Regions from separate parts of the Homo sapiens genome. Here region 1 is linked to region 2. The links come from fine-mapping of genetic effects on gene expression. Tissue or cell type: whole blood. Region 2 holds a variant in brackets; the other region holds the start of a gene. All regions are shown on one strand. Distances are between the middles of the regions.

Evidence for each region. PIP is the estimated chance that this variant, and not a neighbour inherited with it, causes the effect.
Region 1: LIX1-AS1 starts here. The variant in region 2 is fine-mapped to the expression of LIX1-AS1 in whole blood (TOPMed, PIP 0.95).

Annotation. Positions count from the first base shown.
Region 1 is chr5:97,070,097-97,078,285 of GRCh38, reverse strand. It overlaps LIX1-AS1 (LIX1 and RIOK2 antisense RNA 1), which reads right to left and starts at 4,561. Exons shown (of 8, transcript NR_187470.1): 1 at 4,448-4,561.
Region 2 is chr5:97,130,102-97,138,290 of GRCh38, reverse strand. The region is part of intron 1 of LIX1 (limb and CNS expressed 1); the gene reads left to right. Among named protein-coding and RNA genes, the nearest start is that of LIX1, 8.4 kb to the left of the region's middle. The variant C/T (reference allele first, on the strand shown) is at 3,875.

The DNA.
Region 1 (8,189 bases), 60 kb after region 2:
CACTGCTCACTCACTGACTCACCCCAAGCATCTTCTAGTCCTCCATGCATGTTACGTGCCCTACACAGGTGCACCAGTTTTTATCTTTTACGCCATATTTTTACTGTACCATTTCTATGTTTACATATAGAAATACCAACCATTGTGTTACAATTGCCTATAGTATTCAGTACAGCATGCTGTACAGGTTTGTAGCCTAGGGACAATATGCTATACCACCTAGGTTTGTGTAAGTCCACTCTACGATGTTTGCAAAATGACAAAATCTCAGAATTCTCCCCTTCATTAAGCAATATATTACTGTCTCTTTTCTTTCCTTGCCAGCTCTCTCCCTCTCTCTCTCTATATATAGAAGTAGATGTAGGAGAGAATTTACCACCTGGACACTTGAAGGAATTAATTATGTTTATAAAGATGGAAATGATTATAAAAGACATATTTAGATCAAATTGAAAACAAATAATCTACTTCAGTTAACCATAGATTAATGAGGGAGGAAAGTTAAACAGCAAATATGATCAAGTAATCCTCTACAGTTGAAAACTGCAATCTCATAAAACATTAACTCAGACGGTGCTCTAATTGAATGATATAATATAAATGCTTGCTATCTTTCATCATAGTCTACTTAAATTTTTTCTTTTTCTTTTACTTCATTATTTTATTTTATTTTTTTTTTTTTGTGAGACAGGATCTTACTCTGTGGCCCAGGCTGGAGTGCAGTGATGCAATTTCGGCTTACTACAACCTCTGCCTCCCGGGCTTAGTTAATCCTCCCACCTCAGCCTCCTGAGTAGCTGGAACTACAGGCATGCACCACAACACCTGGCTAACTTTTTGTAGAGACAAGGTTTCACCATGTTGCTCAGGCTGTTCTCAAATTCCTGGGCTCAAGGGATCCACCCACCTCGGCCTTCTAAAGTGCTGGGATTATGGGCATGAGCCACTCCACCTAGCCAAATTTTCTTAATTCCACACAATTAGAAGTTCTAATGTGAATCGTTTTACATAGCCTTGGTATGCCCCTGCCCTTCTGCCCAACTAAATTGTGACATAGTCACTCTACCACTTGTTAATTGTGACAAATTTATATTCCACAATGTACATTTTAAATTGTTTAATTTCTTTTACTTGTAAAATACATTTTACCAAAAAAACCTCACCCGCATATGCTTTTATCTGGATTCCTAATTTTAAAGATATCTGCAGAGTCATTTTACACTTGTCCAGTTGTATACAGCCAAATCAGAGATGCAATAGTAGATTGTCATCAACAGTTGTAATAGTAGATTGTCATCAATAGTTTTTGAGCATAAAATCAAATTCCACTCATAAACATAGGCGAACAAATAGAGTTATCTATGGCAAATATTCTTGTAAATGTTGTTATCAGAAACTTATTCTAATCCCAAAGTTATAAGGTAACAGTCACTAGAATTATTAATACAGACCTTTCCATTTTACTGGGAGTCTGCCAGCCTTTCCTAGCAAACAGACTTGGACAAAAACTCAGGTTTATGATGATAAGAGATAGAAGAAATAATAATTTAACTTAAATTTTGGTATGCAATAGGTATGTCAGATATTTGTTGACCTTTTCTGATCCACCTGATAAGATGTCAGTCATGGCTGCCCCAGAGATGATCTACTCAAAGCCACTGTATCAATATTTCCCCTCCTTCGAAGTTCTTCATTGACAGGAACCAAAATTGGTGGCCTCTGTCTTCAATTATTTTGAGGCTTATAATTTTCTGTTTCTACTTTAACTGTGTGACTTGGATGAGTCTTTTAAGATCTATTATTACTATTATTATCACTTGTAAAACAAGAATATTTTGCTGTCTTCCTATGCAGCAAGTACTATCCTAAGGGCTTTACATTTATTTATGGCACACTTACTTTGAAAAACCCTGTGAGGTAGGAACTACTATTATCTCTAGTTTATAAATGAGAAAATAGAGTCAGAGAGGTTAAGTAGTTTGCCCAGAGACACACAGCAAGGAAGTTAAAACTGTCTATTGCCATTGTGTAGATCTGAGCACAAATGCTTTGTCATCAATGGTTAATTCAGTACTTTTTTGACTTTAATAAAGCTGAGAATCACCTGGGGATCTTTTAGAAACATAGCCTGTGGTGCAGTAGGTCTGGAGTGGGGCCCTTAAAATGTATTTCTAACAACTTCCCAAGTGACACTGATGCTTCTGGTCTGAGGATCGTATTTAGAGAAGGAATATCATCAACCATGTCCTCGTCAAATTCATAGTTCTGGGCTGCATCATGGTACACGGGCCATGTTATTAGTTGTCTCCCACTTGTGTAAGATGTAGAGGAAATAACATAAGATGCCTGTGAGGATTTGATGTGATCATCTGAGTCTTGCTCTGACAATTATTAACATTCAGTTGCCCATTAAAATTCTTTGGAATCCTAGGACTTTGTCTGCTCGTCTCCTGTCAAATTCACTCCCCATCACCAATGGAGAGCAGCAGAGTTACTTAATCATTTCAGTCTTTTTCCATTCATTTCACACAGCTGTAATCAAAAACATAGGAGACTTAGAAGCCGATATGGAAATATGCTTCTGCTCCTCCGGGAGACATTTTTAGCTAGAAAGCTACTGATCTAACCTCAGATCCTCAAGACAATTACCCAGGAGCTGCTGTTGACTAACGAGTGAGCATTTGAAGCACGCACACAAGAGAAAGAAAGTGTTTTACACAAACACAAGAGCTTCATGGGCCTATATGATCAGGCCTAAGAAGACTAAAATATCTTTTCCTAATAAATATTCATTGAGCTAAGCACTTTGCTACATGATTTCTAATTAAATGTCATATTTTAATTCTCACAACTATCCTGTGAGATAACTTTCTCATCCCTGTTTTTTAGATTTAAAAAAACTGAGGCTTGAGAATTTTACATGACTTACCCAATGTCACATAGATGACATGAAATAGATCTGGCATTTGGCTCCCAGCCCAGTGTGTTCTCTCGATTATATAACTCCGTGTTATGTTAGTCTACACAGGAGCCAAGGTAAAGCCATACTTACCTGGGATTGCATTCCTGCTCTTAAACTTAATGGTTATATAACCTTGGGTAAGTTGTTTAAATTTTCTAAGGCTTAGTTTTTCAATATAAACGCAGAAAAGGCATGTCTAGGAAGAATTAGGGAAGGAAGTAATACCTGAGCCGAGTCTTGAAAGATAAACAGGAACTTTCAAGATAGACTGTTGGGTGGGGCAGGTTAAGAAAAGTGTACCAATGGGAACAACTGTGCAAAGACATGGAGTTGGAAGACAGCATGGAGCTTCAGGAAATAACAAATATTTCAGGGGTGCTGGCTCATGCATCTCTGCTCTACAAAATGGGAGCCCATGAAAACAAAAATCTCCATCTCCTAGCTCAGTACCTAATCCATTATCAGTACTTCACAGCACAGGATAGGTGTTTCAGAAATACTGGTTGAATGAAATAAATGAATAGGTGAATGAAAATATTTAATATTTGCTGCTAAACTAGAGGAAGATCATTGGTCATGTACTGGTTAGGCTGAGTGGCTTAAACAACAGAAATTTATTTTCTCAAAGTTCTGGAGGTGGGGAAGTCTAAGATGAAGGTGCCAGTAGATTTGGGTTTTAGTGAGGGCTCTCTTCCTGGCTTGCAAATGGTCACCTTCTAGGTGGAGAGAGGAAGCTCCGGCGTCTCTTGCTCTTCTTATAAGGGCAAGTAATCCCACCATGGAAGCTCCATGCTCATGCCCTCAGCTCAATCTAATTTACCCCTCAAAAGGCCTACCTCCTCATAGCATAACATTGAGTGTAGGGCTTCAACATATGGATTTTGAGGGGACACAAACATTCAGTCCATGATAGAGACTTAATCGCCTTGTCTAAATTCAAGATACTCTATCTCCTTAGTCGTATATGTAGGATTAGGCTTTTTTCTTTTTTTTTTTTTGAGACAGAGTCTTGCTCTGTCACCCAGGCTGGAGTGCAGTGGCTCGGTCTCGGCTCACTGCAAGCTCCGCCTCCGGGGTTCACGCCATTCTCCTGCCTCAGCCTCCGGAGTAGCTGGGACTACAGGCGCCCGCCACCACGCCCGGGGCATTTTTTGTATTTTCAGTAGAGACGGGGTTTCACCGTGTTAGCCAGGATGGTCTCCATCTCCTGACCTCGTGATCCGCCCACCTCAGCCTCCCAAAGTGCTGGGATTACAGGCGTGAGCCACGCGCGCCCGCCTAGGGTTAGGCTTTATATTCTGTACCTCACTCCAGATACCACATCTTGGGGATAAAAATAATATCACAATGACCACAACAGTATCATTCTCTGGCTCTGTCCTTCACTTCCCACTTCTAGAAGTTCCAACTCTCTCGAATTTCTCCCGCACTTAAGATACCCCCAGGGCACAGCTCACACTTGCTCACAGGCGAATTCCTTCTTACCTTCTGGCATCTGCCATTATCTCTTCTCCTGCTCTTTTGTGCTGTGTCTGATGAATTCTGTGGCTGCTGATACCAAAAGCATCAATAGTCCCTCAAAGATGGTCAAGATGAAATGGGAGAGTTTCCTAACCCCCTTCACAGGATGTGTGACAGGGGTGTGGCTCATCTGTTCAGCCTCTGTGCACTCAAACCCCTTACTGGAGGGGGAGCATGCAGACGGGCAGGTGCAGGAGGCGGGGCAAACACTTTTGGGCTCCAGCCCCATGGTAGTAGCATCCAGGGTGGGTGCCTGCAACTCCCAAAGCCCCAGTGGGCATGTTACAGTGCTCTTTTAGCTCTGCCGTCCACAGACAGCTCAAGTGTTATCCAGCCCAGTGCCCTCTTGGTACCTGGATGCTGGGTTCTTGTCCAGCATCCAGGAAGAATCAGGTCACACAGGCAAATTGAAGGATAGTGAATGCAAGAGATTTTATTGCCAGATGGAGGTGGCTCTCAGTGGAATGGCTGGGGAGTGGGGAAGCGAATGGAGTAGGAAGATGTTCCTCCCCTGGAGTTGGGTCGTCCTGCGGCCAATCTCCTCTCCGACTGTCCCCAGCCAAACTCCTCTCAACATTCAGATGCTGCTTCTCTTCCCTCTTTCTCTACCACGCTGCTCGGCCACACTGCTATTCTTCTGTTCCTCTGCTCTTCTATTCGTCTGCTTTTCTGCTCATGGAGCCTGCAATTTGGGGTTTATATTGGTACAAGATGGGGGGTGGACATGGTGGGCCAAAAGGCAACATTTGGGTGCAAAAACAAGAATGCCTATTCCCATTTAAAGTCATGGGTTTCCAGGCTTGAGGGTGGGGCCTTTGGGAGGGAACCTCCCTCTTCTACCCGGTATTTCCCTGCCTCCTGTCTGTATAAATGCCACCACTGGTGGCCAAGCCTGCCAAAATCGCAGCTGCTCCTGCCATTGCCAGGAAACTAAGACCATCAAGGGATGAGGTCTACTCCCACATCTTCTCAATTCAGGATGAGGTTTGCCCACTTTCCTGTTCAGGCAGTAGCCCCAGAGCTGCTGTCTGACACTCAGGCTGCAAAGCTGTGCTGACCTAAGCTCTAGCTGCCTTAGCAGATATCCAGGAAACAGCTTCTCTGGTTTTTACGGAATGTTTTTTGAAGTCTTTCTCCCAAGGACATGAGTCCACAAGGGCTGAGTATTAAACTTCTCCCTCTTTAACACTGATCTGTTGACTTTGGACCAAAGCTCCATACTAACATGCCTTTTCCACTACAGAAGACACTCGTTTTCCCTCCCAAATCCCCCAGATGGTGACTGAATGTCGGTGCAAACTTAACTTTGGCTCAAGTTGGGATTCCCGCTTTGAGGTGAAACTCCCACAGGCACAATACAAACTTCTTTTGTGCCTCTTTTCTACTCCATGATACTAGACAAATGGTTAATACTTAATAACAATAATAATACTTTTTAAATGGGAAACTGGTAGTATAAAGATATACCGTATTTATGCACTACAGGGGGAAAAAAGTGACTCCTGAAAATGCTAAGCATTTCAATTCTAATACAAGCAGCCTGGTTCTGTAAACCTAGCTCAGCAAATCGTGCCTGGACGTGGTCAGTCCTCTATAAATACATAATGCATGAGCAGCTGTCTGAAAGGCTGCTGAAGCCAAGCAAAGAAACCTCACCTGTGGAGGATGCAGGCCTGGGGACGTTGTAGTAGGTCATGATCTCAAAAGAATGACCATGAAGACTTTCAATACACAAAAAATTGAATCTTAAAGACAATGATGTTCTCTTCCCCATTGAGATCCTTTAGAAAAGTAACATGACATGGTATGAGAGATAATAGGAAGGAAGAGAAGAAAACACTAGATGACTATCTACTATGTTTCTTTTTACTATAGACTTGCTGATCTCTTGGCTAGTTCTTGAATGTTCCAGGAATGTTCCCTTCTCAGGACCGTTCCAGTTGCTGTTCTCTATAACTAGAATACACCTATCTGAGAAAATTCATATGGCTTGGTCCCTGGCTTCCTTCAGGCCTCTGCTACACAACTTGGTCTTTCCTGGCCACCCTTTATAACAAGAGCTCCCTCCCTACTCTCTGTCCCTGTACCAGATTTTATGTTTCTTCATAGCATTTAACTACTGCATGGCCTTATATCATTTGCTTATTATCTCTCACACTACAGTGTCAGGTCCACGAGGTGAGGAACTGTGCTTGCTGTATTCATTGCTCTGTACCTAATACCTAACACATAGTAGGTGCTCAATAAATAATTTTAAAATGAATGATTATCTAAATATAAATTGTAGTGCAAGATACTGTTAACCATAAATACAATCTAGTAAAATATTTTAAAAGCTGCTAAAAAAAAAAACTCTAGCCAATTAAATTTGAAAGAGTTTAATTGAGCAAAGAATGATTCGCGAATCAGGCAGCCTCCTGAGCCAGAGTAGACTCAGAGACTCCAGCACAGCCACGTGGTGAAAGAAGATTTATGGACAGAAAAGGGAAAGTGACGTACAGAAATGGAAGCGAGGCACAGAAACAGCTGGATTAGTCACAACTTGGCGTTTGTCTTATTTGAACACGGTTCAAACAGTTGGCCACGCTTGATTGGCCAAAACTTGGTGATTGGCACAAGAGCAGGTTACAGTCTGTTTACAATTCCATTTAGGTTTGTTAAATCAAGTTTAGCCTAAAGCTGCCTCCTTACATATTTTAAGTTCGGCCTAAAGGTTTCTCTGTACATCATGAACTATGACAAGTGGAGGTGTAAACAGGCCATAGTCTACACTTGTGCCAATTACTAAGTTTTGATGAATCAAATGTAGCCAACTGTTCGAACCATGTTCAAATAAAGCAAATGCTGAGCTTTTACCAATCCAGCTGTTTCTGTACCTCGCTTCCGTTTTCTGTACCCCACTTGTCCATAAATCTTCTTTCAGCACGTGGCTGTGCTGGAATCTCTGAGCCTACTCTGTCTTGGGAGGCTGCCTGATTCTTGAATCGTTCATTTTTCAATTAAACTCTTTCAAATGTAATTCGGCTGAAGTTTTTCTTCTATCAGGTTATAATTCATGATGTTCAGAGAAACCTTTAAGCCAAACTTAAAATATGTAAGGAGGCAGCTTTAGGCTAAGCTTGATTTAACAAAGCTATTGTCAGACTTCTACTTCTGGGTATAATAGAGTTGTTTCCCACAGATCAGCCCTGAGAACAACTAGAAAACTGAGTTTAAAAAATTATGTGTATGTGTGTTTTAGAGGCTTGGGAGAGTTGCTGAAGCTAGAGAGCCCAAGAGTGGGGAGGGGGTTGGTGCAGAAGAGACAGTAGATCATGGAGAGGTGAATTGTTGTTGGGCTGTTTTTTCCCTGGAGATATATGCTGATTTGCAGAATAGGTAAGAGGCTGAAAACATGGACTTTGCTTGGAGAGAGGGAAGCTTCTAGAATTAACAAAACCAACAGAACTTTGTCAAGTTAATGAGGCTGAAGAGGCAATGTTAGAGACTCAGACTTGATCCTGGAGAAAGAGGAAGGGTAAGGAAGGGTAGAGAATTGTACCTGAAATATGCTTGAGATAGTTATGGTTAAGCAATGAAGGCCAGAAGTAGTGGCTCACGCTTGTCATCCCAGCACTTTGGGAGGCCAAGGCAGGGGCATTACTTGAGCCCAGGAGTTTGAGACCAGCCTGGGCAACATAGGGAGACCCTGTCTCTACAAAATATA
Region 2 (8,189 bases):
TGTTTAAAAAGTATCTTAATTGTCACTGTAGCCATGAGAATGAGTTGGTTTCTAGCATTGACTTATGAAGTGACATGTAAGATTTCACTGAGATTTTTTCCCAAATTTTATAATGAAAAAGTAAGATGGATCCTTTACTAAGCGTTGAAAAATTGGAAGCAAATTTCTCACATATTTGAGGTGCATTAACTCTTCCATTTGGGAGAACATTTTTCTGCATGAAAGGTTTTATTTATATCAGATAGGTGAATACTTTACTTCAAAGAGTACGTTTTTTGCCCTTTGGAAAAACTGGACCAGACTACAGGGCTATTAAAAACATCTTAGTAATCATGAATCTAGCTATATGCAGCATGAGAGAGCAAGAATCCTCAGGAGTCAAGTACTTTATCCACCCCATGCTTTTTAGTACAGTTATGTGAAATCAATAAATTTATAGTTTTCACATTTCACAGAAAGGAATGGAGTAGGATGTAAAGGCTGAAGATTCTTGTGCAGTAAAATCCCTATACATATTGCATTGCATTCCACCACCCCTGAAAAAATACAGTTTAAAACCACAAAAAAAAGCCAAACAAAAATAAACCCTATAGTGCTTGCTAGCTTATTTTAAAATAATGAGTGCATCTTAATTACAGTAATTTGAACTCTGCTAATTTTAGCATCTAAACTATGGATGTCTGTTTGACTGAAGCCTATTCAAATGCTAATTTTACTTTATTTATCATAGGGCCTAATTATTTTTATTTGAATTTATACTAAGGAAGAAATATAAATTTTAGTACAGCTATCAATGGCATAAGAGCTGGTTCTTTTTTTTTTTCAGTAAATATACATTTGACAGAGTTTAAAGTTAAATGTATAAAAGTCTCAACCCTAGAAGACAGGTTTTCAAACTGGAAAAAATAGGTAGCTTCTTGATCACTTTATGGCTTTATCTGTCCTAGTACATTTATTTCTCATAGAAAAGTAAGATTTAACAGATCAAAATAAATATGATAGACACCTATCCTGTGAGATCAAATCTGGGACCTCTTCATTGACTGCTCTCCCATCTCACCAGAGGTCTTTGGTGGTGGTTGCTGTTGTTTTTAACAGTTAAGATTTGTTAGTCTGAACTCAATTTTAACAACTTCTGAAACTCATGTGTTAAGTTACAGCCCATAATAGGATACAGATGCATAAGGGTGAGTTTCTAAGTTATGATCTTCTGTTTAAATGACACGGTTTTACTGATTATGTGCTACAGATTGATTTAAGAAATGTAAGACAACTTTAGAAGCCTTTCATAAAAGAATCTTCTTTTTGTAATACATTTCATATTGATGTTTTAACCCCAAACACTCTTACTTCTTTTCCTCCATGTTCAAATGCCCATGTAAGTTTAGTCTGTCAAGGTAGTTAAAACATTTCTATTTTAAAAGAAAAAAAAAAGAATCCTATTGAAAGATTGACAAAATAGACAATTATTACACTCCCCATAGTTCTTTATATTTTTTTCTCTAGTGTCCATGAAATGTTTGAATTATGGTTTCGGTTTTTTTTTCCTCCTGCGATGATAATCAGTTGATCCCTATTTTGATCTCATCCCGTTAAGCAGCTGTGAGAAACCATCATTTCGTCACCACTCCTTTGGCACTTATGGCCTGTGCTATTTAGTTTACATTTCCCTCATGTGGCTCTGTACTAAGTGTTACAGCTTCAATGTGGTGTTTTTGTCCACACCTAAGTTGTAAGTTCCAGGAGGGCAGAGCTGTACCTTGTACTTTTCTGTAACCCCCAGGTAACTCCCACAGGAACACACACCTAGCAGTGCACAATCAGACATTTTTGGATTGCCAATGGTTGATTTTTCTTCCTCGCATGAAGGGGGTAAGATTCTGCCCACTGTCAGGTGTTCTCCTTTACGATGAAATAAACTGTGCCAAGACCCTTTTAAGCCATTTATCTTCTGACTCCATTATCACAGGCTAATTACATGCAGGGTTAAGTTGATAGCCAGATGATACAGAAGACAGCATCAAGAAAGTCGGGGCTCTAAAGACAAACACACCCTCTCGGCTAGAGCTCTGCCTTGGGTTGGCCCTATCACACTCTCTCAGAATCATTCCATATGCCATGTTGGCACAATGGCTTAAATTGCCCATCCTTACATTCATCCATTAGATCTACCCCCGACTGTGAGTCACCAAAGTCATGCACGCACCATGCTCTTTAGAGCCAAACTCTGTGCCTTGTGCATAAACCCTGGTTAGATAGCTGTGGCAGGATCTTGAGCATTCTTATAATGACTGTTTCCAGGGAAGGAAGATGCATTACACAAAGCCACATTTACACTTATTTGACCATTTTGACTAAGAAGAACTGATCAGCAAAGCAACCAGCATGACTAATCCTTTATTGGTTGTCTAAAATCATTGGTCCTCTAAAGTCTCTTTTATTTATTTTTATTTTTTTATTTTTATTAATTTTGAGACAGAGTCTCGCTCTGTCACCCAGGCTGGAGTGTAGTGGCATGATCTCAGCTCATTGTAACCTCTGCCTCCTGGGTTCAAGGGATTCTCCTGTCTCAGCCTACCAAGTAGCTGGGATTACAGGCGCCCACTACTGCACCTAGCTAATTTTTGTAATTTTAGTTGAGATGAGGTTTCACCATGTTGGCCAGTCTGGTCTCAAACTCCTGACCTCAAGTGATCCGCCCACCTCGGCCTCCCAGAGTGCTGGGATTACAGACGTGAGCCACTGCGCCTGGCCTAAAGTCTCTTTTAAATACAGTGCAATGTCATTACCCAATAGAATGTGAGAAAGATATGTACTTTCTGATTGGATAAATAGGGTACATCAGGCTTCTATTTTATGCAGCTTTTGAGATTGAATGACATCATCTGACCCAATGTGCACATATAAACCACATATGTGGAATCAGGCATGCTGCTTAACTATGGTATACTTAAAAACTTTTTAATTTGTCTTTGTGATTCCCTCTTACACCTTCATTAATTTTTCCCCTTCTTCCTTAAAAAATTACCCTGTGCTTCCAAATATACATAAAATAAGTGTTATTTAAATTTTCCCCTAAAAGGATTTACAGTTCATCGGTTTTAAATTCTAAAGGTGAAAATTAAGCAAAAAAGTATGATATCCCTTTTGCATGTTTTGCAGAGTCTCCTGAGAGGTTAACTTTGTAAAACAACCTGAAGGATCATAATTTCCTCAGGAATATGTTTGGGGTAAGGAGTGGGAATGAAAGAAGAAGAAAAAAAGCAAACAAAAGAAGAAACACAACCAGCTTTCCAGTTGGTGAAGAGTTAAGCTCTGACCTGGGAGCGTTACCAAAGGAAAGTCCCTCTGCTGGGAACAAAGCAAGACTCCAAGCTGTCTCAGTCCTGCTGTGTGCTGTGGCTACCTTTGAAAGTGTCTACACAAAAGAAAAAGGGGCCCCGAGATTCCTACATGTTGTACCCTGTGTGTCCACAAGATTCCATTAGCCTGGCCAAAACTTGGCAAAGGCTGAGTATAGTTAGAAACAACTAGACAGCAACTCTGTTTGTCAGTGTCCTGGGGTTCAGCTAAGCCCAGCACAAGACCCAAAGGTACCACATTTTTCAACTCATTTTCATGAATGTAAATCAGCGTCACACCTTGAGCTTACCCTTTCAATTGTTTAGGGTTCCTTTTCCTGTTGCTCCTCAAGAAAACTAGGAAATAACATTGGTAAAAACAAGTTGTACATGATTGAATTGCTAAAATACTAATTAACTTTATTTAAAAATATCACCTGCTAGGGATAATTTAATTAAAGGTTATATTAAAATATTACATAACATAAATCCATCTGTTCAGAGGTAGATAATCAATTTAGAAATATGGCTGC[C/T]GGGCACGGTGGCTCACGCCTATAATCCCAGCCCTTTGGGAGGCCAAGGCGGGTGGATCACCTGAGGTCAGGAGTTCAAGACCAGCCTGACCAACATGGTAAAACACCACCTCTACTAAAAATACAAAAATTAGCTGGGCGTGGTGGCAGGCGCCTGTACTTCCAGCTACTCAGGAAGCTGAGGCAGGAGAATCGCTTCAACCCAGGAGGTGGAGGCTGCAGTGAGCTGAGAAAGCTCCATTACACACCAGCTGGGCGACAAAAGTAAAACTCCATCTCAAAAAATATATATATATGGTAATCATCTTGAAAGCCTCTTAATGATTTATCCTTAAATGGCAGCCTTTCCAATTTGTCTTTGTTTTCGACAAGAGAAATTCTACCCAGCTAGAATATTTCCTCATGTAAGTCTTAAAGAAATTTGTTCTTTTTTTTCTGTCAAATTTATAATGGATTTTTAAGATCCCTTTTTGTGGACAAATGACTGTCTTCTATGCAGGACTTGTGTCATATTAGGTAATTGAACTAAGCAATGAACTATATGGTTTCTACTTTCCTGAAGAATACACTGTTATGAAAATTAATTTAAAATAAAATTAGCTCCTCATGGTAGTTTTTGCTAGGAGCAGGTCTATTGCCTTTAGCATCCATGGGAAAGTGAAAAATTGGGACCAAAAAAATCCACATTTTCAAATTTTGAGACATGTAGCATTTTATCCATTTATTTTCTGGCTATTAGGGAGTTCTCACTTTACCAGTGAATGTTATCAAAAGATCTTTCTCTTTTCTATCCCTGAACTCTGCACCTATCTTGGAAATAAATAGCACAATGTGTTCAGTTAGAGAATCTTCAGGTTGTAGACTATTTCTGGACTATTTAATGACTTAGTTTCCAAAACAGGAACAGTTAGTTTCAAAGATGCAATATGAAGACATATATTCATGCCCTCTCTTTTCTTCCTTTACTTCCTCCAGTCACAAATAATAGCTAACACTCTAGTACTTACAATGTGTGAAGTTCTTTTCTGAGCATTTTCCATTTTAAGCCTTACAGCACCCCTGTGATGTAGACACTACATTCCACAGATGAGGAACTGAGGCATGGTGTGGTTAGATATCTTGCAGTGATAGAAACAGGATTCAAACCCAGACAGTCTGGCTTCAGAGAACAGGCTTTTAACTACTAAGGAAACTTCCTGTCTGTTGATAAAAAGTGGAGAGACAAGATTCAGTGCATATTTTATTGTGTAATGAACTCATGCCTGTATTTGAGGACTCTTCTATAACAAACCCTGTAATCCATAAAGCATTTAAACTCTCTACATCTCAAACTTTCCCTATGAAAACATAGATCATATATGCTTATTGGCATCCTCATTGTGTCCAATCTGTGAAAATAAAAATACAATTTTATGTATATATACACAAATGATAAGCCCTGAATGTTGAGTATGATGCCCTCTGGGTGTCCAATTACTGATGTCCTTCTCTGAAGGGGCTTCATCTCCTTCCAGGCTGCAGAAGGAACACTCTTTTGCTTAATCATCTCCTACCCACTTCTAGTGGGTTTTTCTGTCCAGGCCCCTCTCAGAGAAATGTTCTACCTTGGGCTCACCCAGATACACAAGAGCAACCACACATTCTCTCTGGGGATCTGGGCCCTTCCTTGTGGCTCCACCTCTTCATGGATGGAGCCACCACAGGCAGCACAGCACCTTTGGCAAGGGCAAAGGACAAGGGACTCTGTTCCTACCCTTCTCTCCTGCTTGGGTAAAGCTGGGACATCAGGGCAATGGGGTTCACATCCAGTTATTAAAAGAAGCTAAGTCCTCTCACCCTGTCTCTTGTCAAATCATATCCCTTCCTACTGGCACTCTTTCCTATTGCTCCCTACACAGTTCCTCAATGGGAGTATCATTATTTCTCTCCCTTCACCCATCCCTCCCTCAACCTCATTCCTCTGAGAAGGGCTCAGCTTAGGCCTTTTTCCTACACAAATTTTTCCTGACCTTTTCAGCCCACATTCATCTACTCTTCCCCTTGCATTTATTTGATTATTCTGCCATAAATTTTACATTTTACATGTCACTTTAACATCATCTCTGTTCCACAATTTAGCACTCTAATATTTTGTTCACTAATTATATGATGAATATATTATTTCCCCAGTCGGATTGTAAATCTCCGTGGGCAGAGACCCGTCTTGGATTTTTCTATTACTTCATAGCATCAAGGTCAGGGTCAGCACATAGACATGCCAATGCCACATTGCAGGTTAATTATGGCGTTCTGTTCCACTGATCCCATATGGTATTTTTCAATTCTTTTCAACAGAGTGCTTCAGGCAGTCAACATAAATCAATTCGTGTTGGCATCCAAGACAAACAGACTTATTATCCCTGTTCAGGAGTTTCCTAAGCACTAGTTCTTGTGAAGGTACAACCCAAGTGAGTAGGCAGCCAGCAACCACATTTCTACCCTCACCAGGCTTCATCTCTCTCTACCCACTTTGCCATCCCCAGCTGAGACATGGTTGCCACCAATACACCCATGTTGTTTGAACACCATGGTGGTCTATCCGTGAAACCTCCTATTCCAGAATTAAGTCCTGACCACGCTGTGGATCACAGTGACTTCACTTACTTTCTACATGTTCATTCAATTGCACTAAAGCTGTTTAGACTATGTCGAGGTTTCTTAGATTCCAAATGAATTCAATGACTGCTTCTAGGTGAGTATCCAGCCTGTGCTGGATACCAAGGAGGCTACAGAGAAGAATGAGCCAGAGTTGCTGCCCTCTAGAATCCCAGTCTGCTGTGAGTTAAATAACAGAAAACTGTATTCTGTAAGATGAATTGTTACCACAAGGCATTTCATTCCTCTGGCCAGAAGGAAGTACAGCCAAGTCTGACTGGATACATTTAGCCAGGAGCACCACATCCATTTTATTAGCATGGTTTATAGGAGATTAAGTGCTAAGACATAGGGCCACTCATGGAATAAGAGTTCAGAAAAGGAGGTACATGTGGGTAGGAGCCAGTGAGTAAGACACAATGGAGGAGGTGTCATTTCCCCTGAAGTGTGGGAGTAAGCTGGATAGAAGGAAGGGAGGGAAAGGACACAACACTCAAAATAGGAGGGAGAACTTGAACCAAGGTACAGATAACAAATAAGCAACATGTGTTCAGGGAGGTGTGATGAGACTGTCCAGGCTGAAGCTAATCAGGAATTTCTGCTGGAGAGGGTCAAGGGTTAAATAACCAAGGTGTTCCATGTTGCTGGATGTCTTCATCAGTTAACTGGGAAAGCCTCAATGCTGACCTTTATAATAAAAGAAAGGAAGCTTCAGGAAGGGGAAAATGAAAACCTCACTTACAAGAGACTTGCTTGGGGATCTAATACTACTCTGAAAACTCTGTTGTGTTCAAATTTCAAAATACAGTGAAGAAGAAAGTAGCCACACTAATGTCTATAAACTACATGGCACATTTTCTTGCTATTGAAGCACAAAATATTTAAAACTCCTGTAGGGGCCTATCACCGTGTTAGAGAAAGCAATTAGGGGTAGTAGAATGAATTAAGAAGCTCGATCTGCAAAGTCATTTCAGAGGTACGCTGCTTTCTTTACTGTCAGCAGTTCTAAGCTGATAGAAATCACAAAAAGGAACTGGATTTCATGCTATTATTAATATTCCTCCTAACACTTATGTCTCCTTCTACTTCTTACGTCCCTTGCCTCAGCAAGGGATTTGATATTCTGCTTCTTTATTGTAACTTTATCAGTTAAACATCAGTTACCTTGACAAAAGCAAACCCAAAAGATGATTTGTGAAAGTTAAAGGCAGAACCAGAAGTGTTGCTCAGCTCATCCTTAATTCAGTGTCAGCCCAACTGCTACCCCTCTGCTTTCTCCAGAGCTCCATCTTAGGAGTCACTGCTTCCTGTGTCCGGTGTCTAGATTCGCTGTATGGCTGATTTATCTTGTCCTGGCTGTGGATAAAGTCCCTTCCCTTTAGTGTCCACTGGGAGAGAGTAGAAACTTTTCAAAAAGAACTTTACTAAACTTTCGGAGAAATAATGCAAAGCCATAGATAATGTGTTTTCGACTGTAGCTTCCTGACCCTGAGGTGGAAGGCACAACGAGGCAGAGACCTGGCCTTGCCAGAAGGCTCATTTCTCTCTACGGGGGAAACCAAGCCCCTCAGCAATCTCTGTCATTGAGTCTTATTTCTCTTGAGGTCCCTCCTTTGTTCTTTGAAAGAAAGGGCTGGAATGAGAGGCTCAGTCACAGCCCCTCCTGAGCCAGTCTGTGGGT